Linked DNA regions of Homo sapiens. The protein of the gene in region 3 interacts with the protein of the main gene of each other region in a pairwise test. Each region holds a gene or a part of one and is shown on either strand. Other genes may lie near its edges.

The links.
Region 1: the proteins of SSMEM1 (region 3) and APOA2 interact in binary tests that used the Homo sapiens proteins (3 or more experiments, as listed by UniProt).
Region 2: the proteins of SSMEM1 (region 3) and FPR2 interact in binary tests that used the Homo sapiens proteins (3 or more experiments, as listed by UniProt).

What each region holds. Positions count from the first base shown.
Region 1 is NC_000001.11:161,221,706-161,225,196, forward strand, and holds APOA2 (apolipoprotein A-II preproprotein), read right to left. Parts: upstream 1,924-3,491; 5' UTR 1,890-1,923; intron 1,721-1,889; 5' UTR 1,697-1,720; coding exon 1,645-1,696; intron 1,346-1,644; coding exon 1,213-1,345; intron 818-1,212; coding exon 700-817; 3' UTR 587-699; downstream 1-586. UniProt on the Homo sapiens protein: May stabilize HDL (high density lipoprotein) structure by its association with lipids, and affect the HDL metabolism.
Region 2 is NC_000019.10:51,759,590-51,763,343, forward strand, and holds the start of FPR2 (N-formyl peptide receptor 2), read left to right. Parts: upstream 1-1,590; 5' UTR 1,591-1,641; intron 1,642-3,754. UniProt on the Homo sapiens protein: Low affinity receptor for N-formyl-methionyl peptides, which are powerful neutrophil chemotactic factors. Binding of FMLP to the receptor causes activation of neutrophils.
Region 3 is NC_000007.14:130,214,018-130,217,414, forward strand, and holds the end of SSMEM1 (serine-rich single-pass membrane protein 1), read left to right. Parts: intron 1-1,956; coding exon 1,957-2,453; 3' UTR 2,454-2,827; downstream 2,828-3,397.

The DNA.
Region 1 (3,491 bases), on a different chromosome or scaffold from region 3:
TGTCACCTAGGCTGGAGTGCAGTGGCACGATGTCAGCTCACTGCAACCTCCGCCTCCCCGGTTCAAAAGATTCTCATGCCTCAGTCTCCCGAGTAGCTGGGATTACAGGCACGTGCCACAACACCTGGCTAATTTTTGTATTTTTAGTAGAGACGGGGTTTTACCATGTTGGCTAGGCTGGTCTGGAACTCCTGATCTCAAGTGATCCACCTACCTTGGCCTCCCAAAGTGCAGGGATTACAGGTGTGAGCCACTGCACCCCACCAGGGTACCCTCATTTTCTATGACCTCCAGAAATCGAGGGATTCAGTTTGTGAATCCTTCCTTCCTCTCCTAGTTCCTTGTGCAATGCAAAGCCTCTTTAGTGTTCACCTGCAGAGTCGTGCCCAGGCTGTAGGAGACTCTGGGTTTGGAGAATCATGGCACCCTCATCCTGTCATTTTCATCAGTTGTGTCTTCAATCCTTTCTTCACCCCTCCACACTCAAACCTCTCTCCTTCTAGAAGCAGATTTTTCCTTTTCCTTCCTCTTCTCCTCCCTTACTCCCCTACTTTTCCCAGTCCCCCAAACATACCAGGCTCAGAGCTGGATTCATTCAGCATTTATTGTAGCAAAGAGTGGGTAGGGACAGGAGCTCTAGGACTGGCCAGTGGGTGTTCTAGAGGCCAGCTGGGGTTGGAAGACAATGGTCTGGACACTTCACTGGGTGGCAGGCTGTGTTCCAAGTTCCACGAAATAGCTCAAGAAGTTAACCAGTTCCGTTCCAGCCTTCTTGATCAGGGGTGTCAGCTGCTCCTTTGACTTTTCAAAGTAAGACCTGGATAGGTGAGGGGATTAGAGTTTAATCTGAGGGACCCTAGGCACTGGCAGGGGCCTTGGTGGTGGTGGGAGGTCAGAGCAGACTGACTCAGGTCCCCAAACTCTAGTGCCTGGTCCATCGCATGGCAAAGCCCCTAGGTAGGAATAGAGTCAAGACCTTTGCTAGGTAGAGGGACAGACTCTAGAGACTGAAATTCAAGGCCCAGTTCTTGCTGTTCCTCTCTATCTAAGAGACGTGTGGGATCTTTGGGTGATGAAATACTTTTTCTCTGCAATTTAAGCCTAATCTGCCCTAATCCCCACCCCTGGGTTCAGACTTCTGTGGGACCTCTCATCTTCCCTTCTTTCTCTCCACAGTTCCACAGCCCCTGAACCCCTTGCCCTGAGACTTACTTGGCCTCGGCCTGAAGCTCTGGGCTCTTGACCTTCTCCATCAGGTCCTTGCCATAGTCAGTCACGGTCTGGAAGTACTGAGAAACCAGGCTCTCCACACATGGCTCCTTTGCCTGTCTCCGAACCAAAGCTCCTGCCCACACACACACACACACACACACACACACACACACACACTCTTTTCAGCTGGGTCCACAGCAGTGAATCCTGGCCTCCTGCCATACCTCTGCCAGTACCCACCCCAGCTCTCTGCCCCCTCCCCAAAAAGGTATCCAGCCAGATCTTTGGATGGGCTTTCTGGGCTTTAGAGAGGGAATGATCTTCCTTTTGAGCCCTTTGGTTGCCAGACCTGGATATAAGAGCACAGGCAGATAGGTAGCTATAACCACCAGCACATTCTCCCTTTTGGCCCCCTCTCCATATCACACCCACCTTCAAGGCTGCAGATGGTGAGGAGTAGCACAGTTGCTGCGAGCAGCTTCATGTTGGTAACAGTGGGGAGGGCGGCCTAGGAAGAGGGTGGTGGGGGTTTGGGGGACACTGAAGCCAAATGGGCTTCAGCTCCTCCCCAGGGATCTCCCTACCTGCTGCCCATTCCAACCTGGCTCTCTCCCTCTCCACAACTGAAGCCCAGGCCTCTTTGGATGCTGCTCACACATCTTGCCTCCTTATCTTACCTAGCCAGCGTCTCTGTCCTTGGTGTCTGTGCCTGCCCTGGCTGGAGAGGAAGGGGCTATATACCTGTCTGTTTACCCACCCCCTGTCAGGTGACAGGGACTATGGATGGGCCCAGTGGGGCAGGGATTATGTGAGGATAAACAAGTTGGAGAAATGGGGGAGGAGAGGACAAGCACATGGAAGACTCATGGTGATGGGGTGAGAGGCAGGGGGTACAGCTCTTAGTGGAGGCTAAGGGGGTACACTTCAGGTATATTTGAGGTTCATTCTTTTGAGATCTGAGGTCCTTGGACTTGAGTGCAACAGGAAGCAGGATTCCAAGTTATTTCTCTGGAAAGCTCTGACATATCAACCCATGGAATACCATCAACCCATCATACCATGGAAAGCTCATGGTGTCTTTATTCCATTATGGGTAGATCTCATCTCTCAACCTTATCCCACTTTACTGCAACTTGGCAGAGAGATATTGGGGAGCAGAAGAAAGGAGAAAGGAATTGAAATCAGGGACAGGGTTGAGGGCTATGGGGGTTAGGGGAATGAGGGTCGGGTAAGAGGGCAAGTGTAAATGATCTTGTCCGTTTTTGAGTTAATGTGTAATGAGACGGGGAGAAAACAGGAGAGCCCAGAATGACCTGGATGCTGATCACTGAACATACCCTACCCCCAGTAAAACAAATTCAGAAAACAGCTTCCGCCCGTCCCCTCCCAATGGAGGGCTCTGGCAGGAAAAGAGGTGAATAAGAGGCTTCTACCAGGGTAAAGGTTGAAGGCACCTGGTCATTTGATCACCTTATCAGTTCTAGGCAGTGATTAGCCAATATTGAGTCAGCAGGGGCAATAGCCCTGGCCCTTGTCTCACTCCTGTTGGGGGTGGGGGAGGGGGAGAGGTACATTCCCAGGTTCAAAGCATTTGGGTGAAATCAGTTAAATAGATATCAGAAGCTTTTGTATCTTTCACCCTTTTGCCCCCCAAGCATACTCGCTGAGTATGTGGAACATTCCTGAGGGTGACAGTGGAGGCGCAAAGCTGATGAGGGAGGTAGTGACCAGAGACCAAGAAATCTTTGTTTTTTAACTTTTGTTTTAAATTCAGAAGTATATGTGCAGGTTTTTTTGTTTGTTTTCCTGAGACGGAGTTTTGCTCTTGTTGCTCAGGCTGGAGCGTAATGGCATGATCTCGGCTCACTGCAACCTCCACCTCCCGGGTTCAAGGATTCTCCTGCCTCAGCATCCCAAGTAGCTGGGATTACAGACATGCGCCACCACGCCCGGGTAATTTTGTACTTTTAGTAGAGACGGGGTTTCCCCATGTTGGTCAGGCTGGTCTTGAACTCCCGACCTCAGGTGATCTGCCCGCCTCGGCCTCCCAAAGTGCTAGGATTACAGGCATCAGCCACCGCCCCTGGCCTATATATGCAAGTTTGTTACACACGTAAACTTGTGTCATGGGGATTTGTTGTACAGATTATTTCATCACCCAGGTATTAAGCCTAATATCCATTAGTTATTTTTCCTGATCTTCTCCCTCCTCCCACCCTTCACCCTCCAAGACCAAGAACTCTTACTCCATTTTCAATTATTCCCCTGTGGAGCGCTTA
Region 2 (3,754 bases), on a different chromosome or scaffold from region 3:
GTGCACATGTACCCTAAAACTTAAAGTATAATAATAAAAATATATATATATATAAGAAAGAAATTTTAAGAAGAAATTCTAAGTTCTTTTTACAGCATTCAAGACCAACCAAGAAATTGCCTCTGCCGCCCTCTACATACTTAATGCTTATTGCTGTCTGCCTTATCATCTATGCTCTGGTAAACAAAAGTAACCTGCTTTTTTGTGACCCCTTTCGTGGGTATTTTTACTCCCCTCTGACAAGAATGCATTATTTTTTCTCCTTTATCTGAGTCTTTAAGACTCAGCCTACATGTTCCCTCCTCCGGATATTGACTCTAGATCCGTGAATCTGAGTTAGTGGTTCCTTTTAGAGGACCTCACAAGGAGCCAGGCATCTGTCTATCACTACGTGCCCCCACCCTATTGTAACTAAGCACTGCATTCTCACCTCTCTATTCAGGTGGTCCGCAGAGCCCATGTCTGATTGATCTCTATGTCTCCAGCAGCCAGCAAGGAAGCACCTCTTTAGAGACCTGCACCTATACAATACCTACCACCTTTTATTTCTCGATATGTGAACTCCATTGAGAACAAACGAGTAAATGTAGGTAATGTGCCTTCTTCTTTTCTTTTCTTTTCTTTTTTTTTTTAGATGGAGTCTCGCTCTGTTGCCCAGGCTGGAGTTTAGTGGCACAATCTCGGCTCACTGTAACCTCCGCCTCCCAGGTTCAAGCGATTCTGCCGCCTCAGCCTACCAAGTAGTTGGGATTACAGGTGCCCACCACCACGCCCAGCTAATTTTTTTTGTATTTTTAGTAGAGGTGGGGTTTCATGATGTTGGCTAGGATGGTTTTCAACTCCTGACCTCAAGTGATCCACCCACCTCGGCCTCCCAAAGTGCTAGGATTACAGGTGTGAGCCACAGCGCCCAGCCAGTAATGTGCCTTCTTAAGTTCTGTGAGCCATTCTAACAAATTATCAGAACAGAGGAAGGGGTTATAAACATCCCCCCACCCCCGATTTATAGCCAGTCAGTCAGAAGTACAGGTGGCCACCTGGGACTTGGATTGGTGTCTGAAGTGAGGACAGTTTTGGGAGAGTGAGCCCTTTAACTTGTGGGATCTGACACTAACTCCAGGTAGACAGCGTCGGAGCTGAATTGAATTGTGAGATACCCAGTGGTGTCCCCAGAGAACTGGAGAATTGCTTGATATGGAAAAGACCCACACATTTGATGCCAGAAGTACTGCATAAGTCGAGAATTGAGTTTGACTTAATCATCATATTTGGGCTTGATTGCGTGGCTGAAACTCTTCCCACTTCAGTAATTGTTTCTTTCATTTTCATGAAACTCTGAAGAAGGAAGGGCTGGACATTCAGATTCCTTGACCCTTGACATTTGGAAGCATGAACTCCAGTCTCTCACAGAAGGCTAGAGGTGAAGGAACATTCAGACACATTGGTTTCTAAGAAGAGTCCGCTGACAACATACCCAAGGTGTCTTCTGAAAATTATAAGAAATCCTGAGTTTCTGTTAGGGGATTGGCTCCAGCTCCATTGTCCCTCCCCCATCATTCAGTAGTCTCCGCGAAAGCCCTTAGAGCCGGTGTTGCTCCACAGGAAGCCAAGAAGCACACAGGAAAAGGAGCTTAGCTGCTGGTAAGTTGGGGACTGACAATTTAAAATTTATCAATGGAACTCCTGCTCTCTGACAAACACCTCCTAAATTCTAGAGCAGTGCTGTAATGGAGCATCCACTTGCCACAGGTGGCTTTTGAGTGCCTATGTTTCTATCTTGATCTGAAATGTGCTTAAGTGTAAAATATACTTAGTGTAGTTTAATCATTAGTATGATCAAAATAATACAATTTATCTCGTTAATAACTTTCATTTTGGTAACGTGTTCCAATGATTTTTTTTATTTGCGGGGTTAAATGAAACATATTATTATAATTAATTTCTCCCAATGATTTTACTTTTTTAACATGGCTACTAGAAAGTTGTAAGTCACGTGTGTGGCTGGCATTTAGGGCTTGCATTACCCTGTCTCTACTAAAAATGCAAACAACAAACTAGCCAGGCGTAGTGGTGGGAGCCTGTAATCCCAGCTACTCAGGAGGCTGAGGCAGGAGAATCGCTTGAACCTAGGAGGCCGAGGTTGCAGTGAGCCGATATCGTGCCATTGCACTCCAGCCTGGGCAAGAAGAGTGAAACTCTAACTCAAAGATAAATAAACATGTGAAGGAGCCAAGTGTGAGGAGCTTAAGAGGAAGAGCATGGTAGGCAGAAGGAACAGAGAAGGCAGAAGCCCCGAGATGACAATGAGCTGCATGTTCAAGGAATCAGAGCCCGTTATGGGTGGAGCCCAGTGTGTCCCACGAGAGTGCAGAGATGAGGTCTGAGGAATGCACAGGGCAGGTCCAGGGGTACTTGAGGGAACTTAAGATAAGGATAAGTTAGAAGTTTGGAAGCCATTAGAAGGTGTTGAAAATAGCATCACCATTTTATTGGACCTTTTTTTTTTTTTTTTTTGAGACAGAATCTTGCTCTGTCGCCCAGGCTGAAGTGCAGTGGCGCAGTCTCGGCTCACTGCAAACTCTGCCTCTCAGGGTCAAGCGATTCTCCTGCCTCAGCCTCCCAAGTAGCTGGGATTACAGGCACCCGCCATCACGCCCAGCTAATTTTTGTGTTTTTTTAGTAGAGACGGGGTTTCATCATGTTGGGCAGGTTGGTCTTGAACTCCTGACCTCAGGTGATCCACCCACCTCAGCCTCCCAAAGTGCTGGGATTACAGGCATGAGCCACTCCCGGCCCTTATTGGACTTTTTTTTTTTTTTTGAGACAGAGTTTTGCTCTTGTTGCCCAGGCTGGAGTGCAATGGCACGATCTCAGCTCACTGCAACCTCCGCCTCCCTGGTTCAAGCGATTCTCCTGCGTCAGCCTCCCGAGCATCTGGAATTACAGGCACGTGCCACCACGCCCAGCTAATTTTGTATTTTTAGTAGAGATGGGGTTTCTTCATGTTGGCCAGGTTGGTCTCGAACTCCTGACCTCTGGTGACCCACCTGCCTCGGCCTCCCAAAGTGCTGGGATTACAGGTGTGAGCCACTGCACCTGGCCCTTATTGAACTTTTTAAAAGCTCATTTGGTTTCCTTCTGGAGATTGGATTGTAGGGCAGGGGAAAGTAGGACCAGGAACAACCTATTTGCAAAGTTGGCGCAAACATTCCTGCCTGACAGGACCATGGACACAGGTTGTAGAGATAGAGATGGCTCTGGCTGTGCATTCAGCAGATTCTGTAGATAGAATTAATAGGACTTGGATGGGATTGTGGTGAGAGAAAGTGAAATGAAAGATAAGTTCTAGTTTGGAAGTTTTAACAACTGAATGTTTAAACTCAAATAGACACAAAATATTGGAAGAGTGGCAGGTTTGGGAGGATGAGACAATCAACTGTTTGGTTGAGCCACGTTAGGTTTGAAATGTCTACGGGACTCCCGTGGGGAGAGGTTATATCAGACTGGAGCACCAGAGAGAGGCCAAGGCTGATAGTTTAGATGAAAAGAGAGCATGATATTTTAAGCCCTGAGACTGGATAATATCACCTATAGAAAGACTATATAGAGATAAGAGAGGTGGGGAACAAGTAAAAGCTGCGGGACACTCCTAAATTTAGAGTCAAATTTAGAGCAGAAAATACTAGCAAAGGGGACTGAAAAGCGGTGGCCAATTGAGCTTCAAATGCAAGTGAAAGTGTGTTGTGTGTACATT
Region 3 (3,397 bases):
ACAGGATTATGAACTGTCTATGACATCTTTTTCAATAACCTATAAGCAGTGGTGCACTGGTAAATGTTTAACAACTGGTTCTCCAAAACTCCTGTGTGTACATATGCTTACTAAAAATTTTACTGATATAAAGGTTGCACGTCATCTCAGCACCTCCAGAGGCTGAAGCAGGAGAACTGCTTGAGGCCAGGAGTTCAAGATCAGCCTGGAGAACATAGCAAAACCCTGTCTTTTTAAAAAAGAAAATTAGCTGGCATGGTTGTTCGCACCTGCGGTCTCAGCTACTCAGGAGGCTGAGGCAACAGAATCACTTGAGCCCAGGAGTTCGAGGCTGCCAGTGAGGCATAATCATGCCACTACACTCCAGCCTGGGCGGCACAGTGAGTCCCTGACTCTAAAAATTTAATAAATAAATAAATAAAAATAAATAAATATATATCACACCATTTAAAATAATAAAATATACAATACTCCTTATGGCCAATTTCATATAGACAACTGATTCTCACAAAACGCTCTCCTTCATTTTTGCCAGACCCTTGCACCTTAGCCAACCATGGCTGCAATTGATGAACAAGTATAGTTCCAGCGTGAATGTTATTTTCCTCTAAGTTAAGGAGTGAGATGAAAATGAAGCAGAAGATAGATGTATGTTGGAACTTAACTTGGTTGTCAGTGATGTGAGTGACTTCTTTGCTGGAATGGATAATAGTTCTAAAATACTGGAAGAATATTTCCTCATTTTGCAGGGTTAGTCACAATGTAGTGGCTACAGGGATGATACTGAAATGTAATATGTAATCTGCATTAGTAACATGTTCTCCATCATTTTCTTAAGCCTAGACAATCAACAAAGCCATACATCAAGCCCTGATGTTTAGTGTCTGCTGATTTTCGTGGTATAAATACTTCCACCAAAGCTGATTTTAAGCTATCCACCTCATGTCATTGAACATGGAGTTGGGAGGAGATGTGCAGTAGTGCACCCTTAACATAGAATTTCCGCCGGGCGTGGTGGCTCACGCCTGTAATCTCAGCACTTTGGGTGGCCAAGGAGGGTGGATCTCCTGAGGTCAGGAGTTCGAGACCAGCCTGGCCAACATGGCAAAACCCTGTCTCTACTAAAAATACAAAAAAATTAGCTGTGCATGGTGGCACGTGCCTATAATCCCAGCTGCTGGGGGGCTGAGGCAGGAGGATCACTTGAACCTGGGAGACAGACATTGCAGTGAGCCGAGATCGTGCCACTGCACTCTAGCCTGGGCAACAGAGCGAGACTCCATCTCAAAAACAAAAAAAAACAAAACAAAAAAACAGCATAGAGTTTCCAGCATCCAAATACAACGGACATAAAAAACCAGAAGAGCACATAGCATAAACAAATGTAGTAAGATAATTAGGAAGTGATGGGTTTTGAGTATTACCTCTATTTTTAGTAACTTAATTTATTGTAAGTTGGTATAATTTAATTTTTAATAATGGCTATGTTTAACCATCTCTCAAAATTCCTGAAAGTTTATCAGCTCTTCTGAGCAGGTACAAGCCAACTTCCTCACACCACTACGTAAAGGAAAGATCCTTCTTAGTTCCTGCTCCCCAAATCACATTCATATACCTGCTTGAATCTGTAAGACTTCAATTTTCAAAGGGAAAAAAGAGTTCTTCCCTGGAAAAGTTTAGAGATCTTTTCCTTTGACCTTATGTTTAGCATCCACAAAACTTCAAAAGTGATATGGTGATATGTCAAGCATCTATCTAAGCTCTCTGGTCTGCAGGAGTTGGGATATGGTACTAGAAAATGCAGTCAGCTGCCAACACTTGCAGGTGACTGGAGAAAAGCAATGGCTTGACAACTGGCCACTAAGAGTGAGCTCACACGTGCACAGGCTTCTTAAGTAATAGGAATTCATAGTAACCAACAATATTACTAACTTGATATGTTTCATTGGTTGTTAGCAAGCAAAGAGACTTCCTGTAAGCGGCAAAGCAAAGACAGTGCCTGGGATCCCTCACAAACAATGAAGAAACCAAAGCAGAACCAACTTACCCCTGTAACCAACTCAGAAGTGGCTTTGGTCAATGCCTATCCTGAACAAAGACGAGCCAGGCGCCAGTCTCAGTTCAATGAGGTGAACCAGAACCAACATGACAGTGATACTACGGAGTATGGCAGTGAAGAGTCTAACTCAGAAGCCTCCTCGTGGAAGGAGAGTGAAAGTGAACACCACCCATCACCAGACAGTATTAAGAGGAGAAAAATGGCTCAGAGGCAAAGGAATCTGGGAAGTTACCAAATGAGCGAAAGGCACTGCCTCCACTGCAAAGCCTTGAGAACCAACGAATGGTTGGCGCACCATTCCCGACAGAAGCCTTCAGTAACACCGCCAATGAAAAGAGACAGTCAAGAGGAAAGTTCCATATCTGACATTAACAAGAAATTTAGTAAATTTTGAATTTTATCACGTTCTTCCTTCACTTGAAGCCAAATGAAAGAGATGAATAAAACATGAAAAATCACCAGAGCTATAGGTGAGGAGACTTTTACAACAAAGTCTCTCTACCAACAAACAAAAACATACTTGGAACCCAAGAGGTAAAATCTCACACAATTCTTCGTTCAAAAAAAAAAAGGCCATCACGTGTTTATGGCACCATTGGAACACCAAAGATCTATATCTGCTATGATTTTTTTATTTGAAATAGCACAAGACAGATATTTTGTGCCTTGAGTGTATATATTTTGTGCCTTGAGTGTATGTATTTTGTTTATGTCTGTAATATGAATAAGAAAGCTCTTTGAAAATGTATTATTTATGTTGAGAAACCACTTAAATGTATTCAGATGTTTTGCTTATCTGACTGACTGAATGAACTAGGTGAAGTTGGTTGGAATAGAATTGCCCCATCCTCTCTAGGTTTGACCCTACAAGAACTGTATTGCCACACATGTCAGCTAGGGGCTGGTGTGGAAGAGGAGCTCAAGAGGCTGGAATAAGATCTGATTCCTGGAGTAGGGAGGAGAGGCAGCATGACCCAGAAGGCAGTTGGCAGTGGGCTACCCACGGTTGTCATCCACAAAGTGCATGGCAAATGTTAAAGGAAAAATTATTCTGACACTTGTTAAAATGGCCAGGAGGACTTCATTCAAGACTCTATTGCAATAGAGAGTAGAAATTGAGCTCCACTCTGAATACAACAAGGACAAGTGGGGATTTATAGCCAGGAGCAGGAGGAGGACATCACAGGATGGGAAATTACCAAAGAGAGACATCAAACATAGGAGTATTCCTGATAAAGTGACCTAACAGGATTCATGCTAAAGGCAGGCCAAGGACTTACACATCAAAAGTGGAGAATGAGGCCAGGCGTGGTGGCTCATGCCTGTAATCCCGGCACT